2 separate regions of the Homo sapiens genome follow, and region 1 is linked to region 2. Evidence: fine-mapped expression QTL. A gene starts in region 2. The other region holds a variant in brackets. All regions are shown on one strand. Distances are between the middles of the regions. Region 1 overlaps SAMM50 (SAMM50 sorting and assembly machinery component). Region 2 holds the start of PNPLA3 (patatin like domain 3, 1-acylglycerol-3-phosphate O-acyltransferase).

Region 1 (5,000 bases), 48 kb after region 2:
GGCTGGTAGTGAGGTGGGGTGAAGAATGTTCTGGGGACAGAGATAGCACTTATCAGGCCCACGCCAGGGGAGAGTGGCTCGCTGGGTGGACCGCAAGTGTAGGAAGAGCTGGAGTGCAGGTTGGGGGAATGGAGTGCTGGAAGACAAGGAAGAAAAGCCGTCAGGAGCCCAGACCGTGGTGGGCCTAACATGGCGCGGTAGAGTTCCCACTTTAGTCAGAATTCAGCAGACACCATTGAAAAATAAAATTTGGAATGAATCTGTGAATGAGTAACTCTTCAGAATTGAATGGGGGGTAATTTTGAGAAGGCCTAGATAAGACAATATAGGAAAATGCTTGCAAAAAATAAGGTGCTAGATAAACTAAGGACATTTTCATTATTTGGAGTATAGTTTCAGCCAACACTAACAGACCTAAAAGAACAGTGGCTTAGACAAGAGAGAAGTCTCCATCTCTCCACACAGCTGGGAGACTGCCAAGGGCTGGTGTGGTGCTGCGTTCCCTGAGGTCACCTTGGGCTGGCGTGGTTTCCTGTGGTTCCCTGGGGTCACCTTGGGCTAGTGTGGTGCCTTGTTCTCTGAAGTCACCTTGGGCTAGTGTGGTTTCCTGAGGTCACCTTGGGCTGGTGTGGTGCTTCGTTCCCTGAAGTCACCCTGGGCTGGTGTAGTTTCCCCCCGTGGTGTCTTGTTGCTTTGTCATCCCTAGGGTCCCTGAGTCCCTCTGATGGCTGAGCACCGTGTCCTCATTCCAGTATTGGAGGAGCACAGGAGATTGAGAGGGCTTACCCCTCCCTTTAAGCACCTGTCCTAGGTGTTGTACACGGCACTGCTCTCATCCCATTGGCCAGGACTTAATCACTTGGCCACACCTAGGTGCAGGGGAGGCTGGGAAGTCACTGGACTTGAGTTAATAATTGGTGTATGGGTTTATCAGTTGTGACAAATGTACCACACATGCGAGGTGTTAGTAAGTGTGTGTCGGGGTAAGGAGAGGTTCATGGAAACTCTTTGTACTTTTGTAGTTTGTACAAAAACTTTGTACTTTCTGCTTTATCTTTTTTTTTTACCCGCAACCCACTGTTGCTGGCTTCAATTCTTTATCTTTCTGTGCGCCTAAAGCTGCTCTAAGAAATAAAGTCCACTAAATAAAAAATAAAGTAAAATAAAAAATAAAAAAAGAAAAAGAAAGAAAAGATGGTGCCAGGCGGGGTGGCTCACGCCTGTAATCCCAGCACTTTGGGAAGCCAGGGCGGCTGGATCATGAGGTCAGGAGTTCGAGACCAGCCTGGTCAACATGGTGAAACCCCGTCTCTACTAAAAATACAAAAAATATTGGCAGAGTGTGGCGGCGGGTGCCTGTCATCCCAGCTACTCGGAAGGCTGAGGCAGGAGAATTGCTTGAACCCGGGAGGTGGAGGTTGTGGTGAGCTGAGATCATCCGACTGCACTCCAGCCTGGGTGACAGAATGAGGCTCCATCTCAGAAAAAAAGAAAAGACAGTACTGAGGCTCCACCCTAGAACTGTTGGACCTGAGTTCCTAGAGCGGTGCCTGAGCATCAGCATATTTTGACAGTTGCCCAGATGCGTCTAGATGTCCAGCCAGGGCTGAGCACCCCTGTGTACAAGGCAGGAGTCGCCTTTCCTTCCTGTGAGAGGCCACTCATTCCTACAGAGCCCAGCCCGCTCTGCACAAGGCACCCCAGGGCCATGGTGGGTCACGAGGTGGCTGCTTCCAGCTCAGACCCAAATCATACCTGGTGCGGGGGAGGACAGACATGCCTCTTACACACAGTAACACAGTAAACAATCTCACACTTATCTTCGAGGGTTACTGACACCCCTATTGTCATGTGAGTTCCCCATTTTCATGTCGGTTGAATTGAGAACCCAAATATTTTCAAGGACCTCTCTAATAGGAGAACAGATTCCTTTAGCAAATATTGTTTGCTTAAGTTTGCTTAAGTGAATAATGCTGCTTATAGTTATCTCCTTGTAGCAAAGGTAGATTGTTTTTGTTTTTTGGTTTTTGGTTTTTTTTTTAGAGACAGGGTCTTGCTCTGTCGTCCGGGCTGGAATGCAGTGGCACAGTCATAGCTCACTGCAGCCTCCAACTGCTGGGCTCAAGTGATCTTCTCACCTCAGCCTCCCGAATAGTTGAGACTATAGGTGCTCGCCACCACATCTGGCTAATTTTTAAAATTTTTGTAGCTATGTTGCTGGGGCTGGTCTTGAACTCTTGGCCTGAAAGTGATCCTCCCACCTTGTCCTCCCAAAGCACTGTGATTACAGGCCTGAGTCACTGTGCTCAGCCCTGTTTATTGATATATTCTACCAGAGAAACTAGAAACATTATTTTTTGGTGTAGAGGTGTGCAATATTTTGATTTTGTGTGGGAGTGTTCTTAAACGTTTCTCATGATTATATTATTTTCTAAAGGAGATTGTAAAATAGAATGAACCTTCAGATTGCTT[T/C]TTGTCTTTTTTAGCAATGGGAACCCAAAGTAAAATAACATCCTGGCTGTCTTATTGTTTAATATTTTTTTATTTAGGTGATGACGCACTTCCAAATGGGTTAGACGTTACCTTTGAAGTAACTGAATTGAGGAGATTAACGGGCAGTTATAACACCATGGTTGGAAACAATGAAGGCAGTATGGTATGCTACAGGCTTTTTACTTTCTTATATTGGAACTTAGAGTTGGGAACTTTTACACTATGACTGCATTCTAAAAGCTGATGATAGTTTCAAAATTCGGTCATTTCATTTACCTTAATCTGTTGTTATTTGTGGTTTCTCTTTAATCACCGTAGAATTGGTGATAATATGTTTTGGGTTGTTTGATAACAATGTTAACGTTAGTAATTAGGAATGATTTGGAGAATGTTCATATTAATAGTCTCTTGTTCAAATTCCTTTAAACTCTAAATCTGTAACATTCTTGAGCCTCACGGGTGGCAAGGTTAGCTTGTCCCTTGCATTAATCAGGTTTGAATGCAGGATGTGAGCACTCAGCAGCGGCATGTTTTAAAGAATGAAAGTGATTACAAATGAAAGACTAGATCTGTAGTTAGCATCTTCCTTCTGTTTTTATGAAAGTCCCTTAGCTAGCATAGTCTTTATCCAATCCAAAGTTCTCATTCCTTCAATGTAGACCACTGCTATTTTTTTTTTTTCCCCTCCTAGGTACTTGGCCTCAAGCTTCCTAATCTTCTTGGTCGTGCAGAAAAGGTGACCTTTCAGTTTTCCTATGGAACAAAAGAAACTTCGTATGGCCTGTCCTTCTTCAAACCACGGCCCGGAAACTTCGAAAGAAAGTAGGAAGCCCAACAGATCATTGAGTACACTGGCCTGATAGAAAAGTTAAAATAGGTGGCTTATTTGTGAAAAGAACCATGACAGAATCAGCTGCCACTTCTGCAGTGACCACATGCTGTAGATTTCCTCTTGAAGATGAGCCCTACGGGCGTAGTGTTAAGTCTGTTGATTTAAATGTGTGCAAGTTCTAATCACTGTTTCAGCTTTTAAAGCTCTATCCCATTGTCTCCTAGTTTCTCTGTAAACTTATATAAAGTTACTGGACAGTTCCCTTGGAGCTCACTGCGGGAGACGGACAGAGGAATGTCAGCTGAGTACAGTGTGAGTAGCATTTCAGTCCTTCCCTCTGGGCTTGGGGGAAAACAGGGTGGCTTTTTCACTGATTCCCAAAGGCAGCAAGAGGGCAGCGTGGAAAGCACAGGCCCTCTGCCCTCCGCACCAGGTACCTCCTGGCCAGGTGCCTCTTCTCTAGCCGAGTACAGGCTACAGGGACCCGAGAGTGGCTGATGCCCATGTTAGCAGCTCCTTAACCTGGTCCTGACTACCCGAGGCACCATTGGTTGTCCCTCCCCATATGTGTGGAGACTGACAGTTTCTCATAGTCAGCAGAGTTGGTCAGATCACTGGAAGGTTTCTTTTTTGTTGTTGTTGAGACAGAGGTTTGCTCTTGTCGCCCAGGCTGGAGTACAATGGCACGATCTCGGCTCACTGCAACCTCCGCCTCCCCGGTTCAAGTGATTCTCCTGCCTCAGCCTCCGTCACCGTGCCCAGCTAATTTTTGTTATTTTTAGTAGAGATGGCGGTTTCCTTATGTTGGCCAGGCTGGTCTCGAACTCCCGACCTCAAGTGATCTGCCCGTCTCAGCCTCCCAAAGTGCTGGGATTACAGGTGTGAGCCACTGCACCTGGTCCGGAAGGTTTCATTTTTGGTTCACACCTAAGTTTACACCTAGAAGGGTGTGATTAAATGCCACCATTGGAATTCGTATCATTTGGCCTTTTTGGGGCTTTATGATAACCTGCTTTTTTTTTTTCTCCTTCCTTTCGCCACTGTTCCTGACTCCTCTTGTTCTGGGCTTTAGTTCTTGCGGAGAGCCCTGAGATAGAATACTATGTAAGAGTCGTTCCCCACATGTGGTCTTCAGACCAGCAGCATCGACCTCAGCTGTGGGCTTGTTAGAAATGCACATTCGCGGGCTCCACCTTGAGCTGCCAAGTCCGACTCACAGAGAGTGGGGCCCAGGAAGCTTTAAGTGTGCTCTCCCTCCAAGAACCCAGCAGAAGCCCTGGAGGCGACCACCTGGGCTTGACTCCCCCGTCTCCCTTAGGGCTGTGCGACCTCAGGCAAATGACTCATCTGTGAAATGAAGGACAGGAGCGCGGGGTCTCCCAGGGCCGTTGTGAGGGTTGGATGAGAGGCGTGGTAAAGCTCCTGATGCGGCGCGTGGCGCAGTTTAGGTGCTTGAGGTGCGTTAGTGCCCCAGGCCTCTGGTCCTTGCAGACCAAGGCCATGAGAACTCAGAGCACACAGAGCTGGGCCAGGTAGACTCCAGGTTCAAGATGGAGATAGGAGAATCCAGGCACATTTGCACTTTCATTTCCTTTTCTCCAAATTTTCTTGTCTGGAAGGGAGCAGCCCTGAGACACCTTTCTGCTTTGAAACCGTCCTCGGATGCCCTCTGGTG
Region 2 (5,494 bases):
TGCTTTCTGTTCATCACATTTAACTTCACAATGCCCCTCACACAACTGTTTTCTCCCCCATGGTACAGATATAAAAAGTGAAGCTCTGAGAGATGAAATGATGCTTGCGAGTCTTGTGCACTGGCTGTCTGATGCCAAAGCTTGCAGTCTCAACCATGATATCATGTGCCTGTCCCACTGGAGGCTGGATGGGGGGCTGAGAGAGCTGGACCATGAAACCCTTGCCCAGCTGGGTCCTCTCTTTGTCTCTGGAAAGTGGGGAGGGCCCCCAGCTGCTGTCTACATGCAGTGACGAAGAGGGGGTGAGTCCTCAGCCCTGCTCCTGTCCTGCCCACATCTGGGTCACACTGGGGATGACAGATGTCCAGTGTGGCTGGCCAAGAATGAATGCCGGTGGACAGGAAGAGAATATGAATGCCTGTGGCTGGTGGCAGGGTGACTCATCTCGGGCCTTCGGTCACAGCCTCAAATTCCTGTGCCAGAGCCTGGCCCTCCTGTCATTAGTCCTAAGACTGGTCATGCAATGCAGGAGGGATGGATGGGTACAGGAGGCTAGAGGTTCTGACCCCAGCTGTCCCCTCCAGAAGCCTCAGTTCCGCCGCAGCCCTGAGCGTGAGGTGGGGGTGGAGGGCAGTTAGGGCAGGACTGTAGGTAATGCCCCTCTCCAGCAAAGCCAACACGTCAGGAATAGATGGGACCCCCTGTCTGCTTCTCAGCTCTCCTGACCTTCCCCGGGACTTAGGACCTGACCCTGCCTTGCTCTGGGCCTCCATCTACAAAGTGTCTATGTGATGAGGCAGTCAGCCCAGGTATTCACTAAGGCCTGAAGCTCCCATGCCCTGGGATTCCTGCCCAGAGAAAGGAGGCAGCCCTGCTCCCAGCTCCCCTACCCCTCCAGGCAAGGCAAAAGCAAGGACTGCAGCAGAATGGGGAAGCTCAGTTGAACATGAACCACCCAACCAATCCAGGTGCTTCTCAGGTGACATTTGGAATCCTGACAGCAATGTCACCTGTTTTACAACACCACCAGTCATTCTGCAGTTGAGGACACTGAGCCACAAAGAGGGCAGAGGCCTGACCCCAAAGCTCACATACTCTGCATTCCTCCAGGTCTCACGGAGAAGGGGGAGGGCTTCCTGGTCCACTCCAGCTGGGGGCGCTATGGCCCGGCAGACCAGGGTCCTCCAGTGAGGAGCTCTGGACCAAGGTCTAACTTGGCTCCATGTACTGCTGTGGGCTTGCTCCACCCAGTGCCAGGGGTAGGTCAAGGTCAAGGGGCCTCTTAGGCATCTCCTAAGGGCATGCTACTATCCAAATGTTTGTGTCCCCACTAAAGGTCATCTGTTGAAATCCTACACCTTAAGGTGATGATCTTTGGAGGCGGGGGCCTTTGGAAGGTGATTTGATGAGAGGGTGGCACCCTTATGAATGGGATTGGTGCCCTTATCAAAGAGGCCCAGAGGTGAGGATGTGGCAAGATGGCACCTTCTACGAGCCATACCTCTCACCAGGGACCAAATCTGCTGGTATCTTGAACTTGGGCTTTCCAGCCTCCAGAACTGTGAGACAGAGAAATAAGCCAGGCGAAGTGGCTCACCCCTGTAATCCCAGCATTTTGGGAGGCTGAGGTGGGTGATGACTTGAGGTCAGGAGTTCTAGACTAGCCTGGCCAACATGGTGAAACCCCATCTCTACTAAAAATACAAAAAATTAGTCAGGCATGGTGGCGCATGCTTGTAATCCCAGCTACTCGTGAGGCTGAGGCAGGAGAATCCCTTGAACCCGGGAGGAAGAGGCTGCAGTGGGCCAAGATCGTGCCATTGCACTCCAGCCTGGGGGGAAAAAGATAGAAATAAATCTCTTGTTTGTAAGCCCCTCCGCTTTAAGGTGTTTTGTTTTCGCACCTGAACGGACTAAGGGACTAAGGGACCAGGAATCATCCAGGCCTCAGCTTCCCAAAGCACTCCCCACTCCCCAGTTCCTACAGGGCCCCGACCCCAGCCCCAGCACCCGTCATTCACATTTTTTACTTACAAAGGAAACTTTGAAATGGACACTTCCTGTTACTTTCATTCAATGAAAAAAATCCCCAGCACTTGAAGGCAATCATACAGAAAGCCTGCAACAACGCAGAGAGTAGACTCTTCAGGTGGTGGTGCCTGCTTTAGGCTGGCTCTCCCCGGGTCAAAAGGGACGTGATAAAGTGTTAAAGTGATGTTAAGGATCAAGTGGGCACCAACTGCGACTCCCCTCCCACCCCCCGACTTAACAGATGTCAAGGAAAACAGAAGGAAGCCGTTTCTCTCCAGGACATGCAGTGTCTGCTGGAGTTTTGGAAAAATGCTTTCTCTCGAGTCGCTGCGGGGAGCTCCCAGGCTGGACCCCCCCGCACAGGTCCTCCGCCATCGCCCTCCCAGCCCCCGCCCCCAATCCCCCTCCCAGACCCGGTCCCCGCCCCCATCCCCCGCCAGACGTCGTCCCCACCCCCATCCCCCTCCAAGCCCCGCCCGGGAGGGCGTCCTGCCCGCTCATTGGGCCTCCCGCCGGCTCATTTGCATGGTCCGAGGGGGGCGGGGCTGACGTCGCGCTGGGAATGCCCTGGCCGAGACACTGAGGCAGGGTAGAGAGCGCTTGCGGGCGCCGGGCGGAGCTGCTGCGGATCAGGACCCGAGCCGATTCCCGATCCCGACCCAGATCCTAACCCGCGCCCCCGCCCCGCCGCCGCCGCCATGTACGACGCAGAGCGCGGCTGGAGCTTGTCCTTCGCGGGCTGCGGCTTCCTGGGCTTCTACCACGTCGGGGCGACCCGCTGCCTGAGCGAGCACGCCCCGCACCTCCTCCGCGACGCGCGCATGTTGTTCGGCGCTTCGGCCGGGGCGTTGCACTGCGTCGGCGTCCTCTCCGGTATCCCGCTGGGTGCGTCTGGGGACGCTGCCCGGGCTCCACGTGCGGAGTGGGTGCCCCCTAGGCCGGGGAGCGGGGGATCCCCAGGGGTCGCGGGGCCCTGGAGGAGCGGGCATCGGACGCGGACACGGCGGGGTGCATCCCGAGGGCCCCCTCCGAGGCAGATGCTTCCTGCGGGGGCGCTGTTCCTGGGCCCGGGAAGGGGGCGTTGGAACCCCGAGCGGTCCGGGCCGAAGCCTGGGACTCTCGTGCGTCCCCACCCCTACCCCCATCAGGCGCCCGTGCATGAAGGGAGACCCTCACCTCCGGACTGAGAGTCGGAGCGTCTCGGAGCGACGGGGAGTAGGGAGCGGGACCCGGGGCGGAGGGTAGTGCTGGCCCCTGCGGACTCCGGGTCCCCTGTGTCCTCTCGGGAGGGGCTGGACGGGCTGAGCTGCCGAGGGGCCGATTTGCCCTGGGCCGGACAAAGAGTGGGGCTTTGGCCGGTCCCCCACGGTGGGCTCCTTCCCTCTGGGGATTGAGGGACTCAAGACACCCCGCGCCTGCGCTTTTCTTTTCTTTTTTTCTTTTTTTTTTTTTGAGACGGAGTTTCGCTCAGTCGCCCAGGCTGGAGTGCAGTGGCGTGATCTCAACTCACTGCAAGCTCCACCTCCCAGGTTCACGCCATTCTCCTGCCTCAGCCTCCCGAGTAGCTGGGACTACAGGCGCCAGCCACCAAGCCCGGCTAATTTTTTGTATTTTTTAGTAGAGACGGGGTTTCACCGTGTTAGCCAGGATGGTCTCGATCTCCTGACCTCGTGATCTGCCCACCTCGGCCTCCCAGAATGCTGGGGTTACAGGCGTGAGCCACTGCTCCCTGCTGCCTACGCTCTCTGGGTCGCAGCCCAGCCTTCTGGGGGCTGGGTAGCCTCCCAGAAGGGCAACCCTGGGCATCCTCCAGGGCAGGCTAACTGGAGTCTAGTGGGGAGGGGTACCTTGAAAGAGGAAAGTTGTTTCCTCCTCCTCCTCCTCCTCCAGTGTTTGGGACCCTTCCTGGGGGCTGGAGTGCATCCCTGGACACCCCCCAATCCCATCCTCTTCTCTAGTTTCCACTGACCTAGGCCCACCCTCCCCTCTCCGGCTCAGTACTCCTGGAAATGAGATTCCGTACATTTGAATCTTGTCCTAATGAAATATTTGTCCATGTGGGTACCTGTGTGTGTGTGGTGGGGGTGCAGACGGAGGGTTTGTTTCTCACTAGCTGGAACTACTGGGGTGTGGTATGCTTCCTGGGAATTTGTGTGCCACAGTCCTGGAGGCGAGGAGGGGGTTGTGAGCCAGTAGGCAGGGGCTGGGGCAAGTAGCATTGTGAAGCTATTGACACCCAGACGTCCCCAGGCAGGAGATTATGCCCCCATTAGCCCCCTTTTATCTGGGCTTCCTTAACAATGGACTCTTTGCCCTGCCTGCCAGAGCCAGCAGGGAGTGACTGTTCAGTGGTGAGGAAGCGGGCAGAGGAAGCCCTGCCATTGGGTAGGAGCAGTGGGCAGCCCCTGGGCTGACTGGGAGGTGGGGATTAGGGATTAGACAGTCCTGGCTGTCTGCCTTCCCCTAAGCCAGGGGGAGAGGAGCAAAGGGCACGAAATGTGGCCTCCAGGAGGATTAGACCGCCACATGATCATTTGCACACCCTGGGGTTTAGCAACAATAAAAGTCAGCTTTTTTGTATCCCAAGGTGGCCTGTGGACACCCACATGGACAAATGTTTACACTGGGACAGAATTCAAATGCAGAGGTCCCAGGAGCCTAAAGTACACTCACTCTGGTATAGAAAGGATTCCTTACTGGGCAGAGGACAGGTGCAGCCTGGGGCTTTCCCAGGCAGGACACAGGGAGGCTCAGGAACCACCAAGTCCCTGGAAGGTGGATCTGGAGGCGTTGGCAGGAGCCACTCCCTGGGTTCCAGGGCTCCAGGTTCCTGCTTTAACCCCCTGTCTCACAGAGGGCTGTGCACTTGGGGGCTGCTGAGCATGTCCCAGAGGCTGCATCCTGGACACAGCACCTCAGTGCATCTGAGCTGAGGCTAACTTGGCAGGAGGGACAGGCAGAACCTGCCAGCCACGTGCAATTCCACCCCTCTGGCCACTCAGGGAAGGAGAGCTGTGAGTCAAGATCAGATTTGGGTCAGGACAGGCTGGGGCCTGCCTGTCCCTGTGCATCCCAAGATTTATGGCTGGCCAGGGGTTGGGCTGGGAGGGGTGGTCTTGCATGCCAGGAGAGTGCAGATCAGCCTGAGAGGCCAGGCCAGTAAGTGAGGTCAGATCTCCTGCACCTGATAGCATTAAGGCCATCTACACCAAAGCTCTAATGCTGATATGTTCCTGGCCTCTATGTGGGGCATGGAGGTGGGGCATGGAGGTGAGGCCTGCTCGCCTGGGCTTCTGGAAGTGGGAGACTCATTCCTGTGGCTGAGGCCTACAGCAGTGCTGTGTGGTAGGAATACACTGGAAGCCATGATGTCATTGTGCATTTTCTAGAAGCCACATTGAATAAAGTAAAAGACACAGGTAGAATTAATTTCATTGAGCCCAATATATCCAAAATAATATCA

Evidence for each region.
Region 1: its variant is fine-mapped to the expression of PNPLA3 in whole blood (TOPMed, PIP 0.91).

What each region holds. Positions count from the first base shown.
Region 1 is chr22:43,969,687-43,974,686 of GRCh38, forward strand. It overlaps SAMM50 (SAMM50 sorting and assembly machinery component), which reads left to right. Exons shown (of 15, transcript NM_015380.5): 5 at 2,550-2,656; 6 at 3,185-3,315; 7 at 3,550-3,637. Among named protein-coding and RNA genes, the nearest start is that of SAMM50, 17 kb to the left of the region's middle. The variant T/C (reference allele first, on the strand shown) is at 2,473.
Region 2 is chr22:43,921,183-43,926,676 of GRCh38, forward strand. PNPLA3 (patatin like domain 3, 1-acylglycerol-3-phosphate O-acyltransferase) reads left to right here and starts at 2,623. Exons shown (of 9, transcript NM_025225.3): 1 at 2,623-2,916. The coding sequence starts at 2,730. RefSeq lists enhancers at 521-1,021, 2,438-3,182, 3,183-3,925.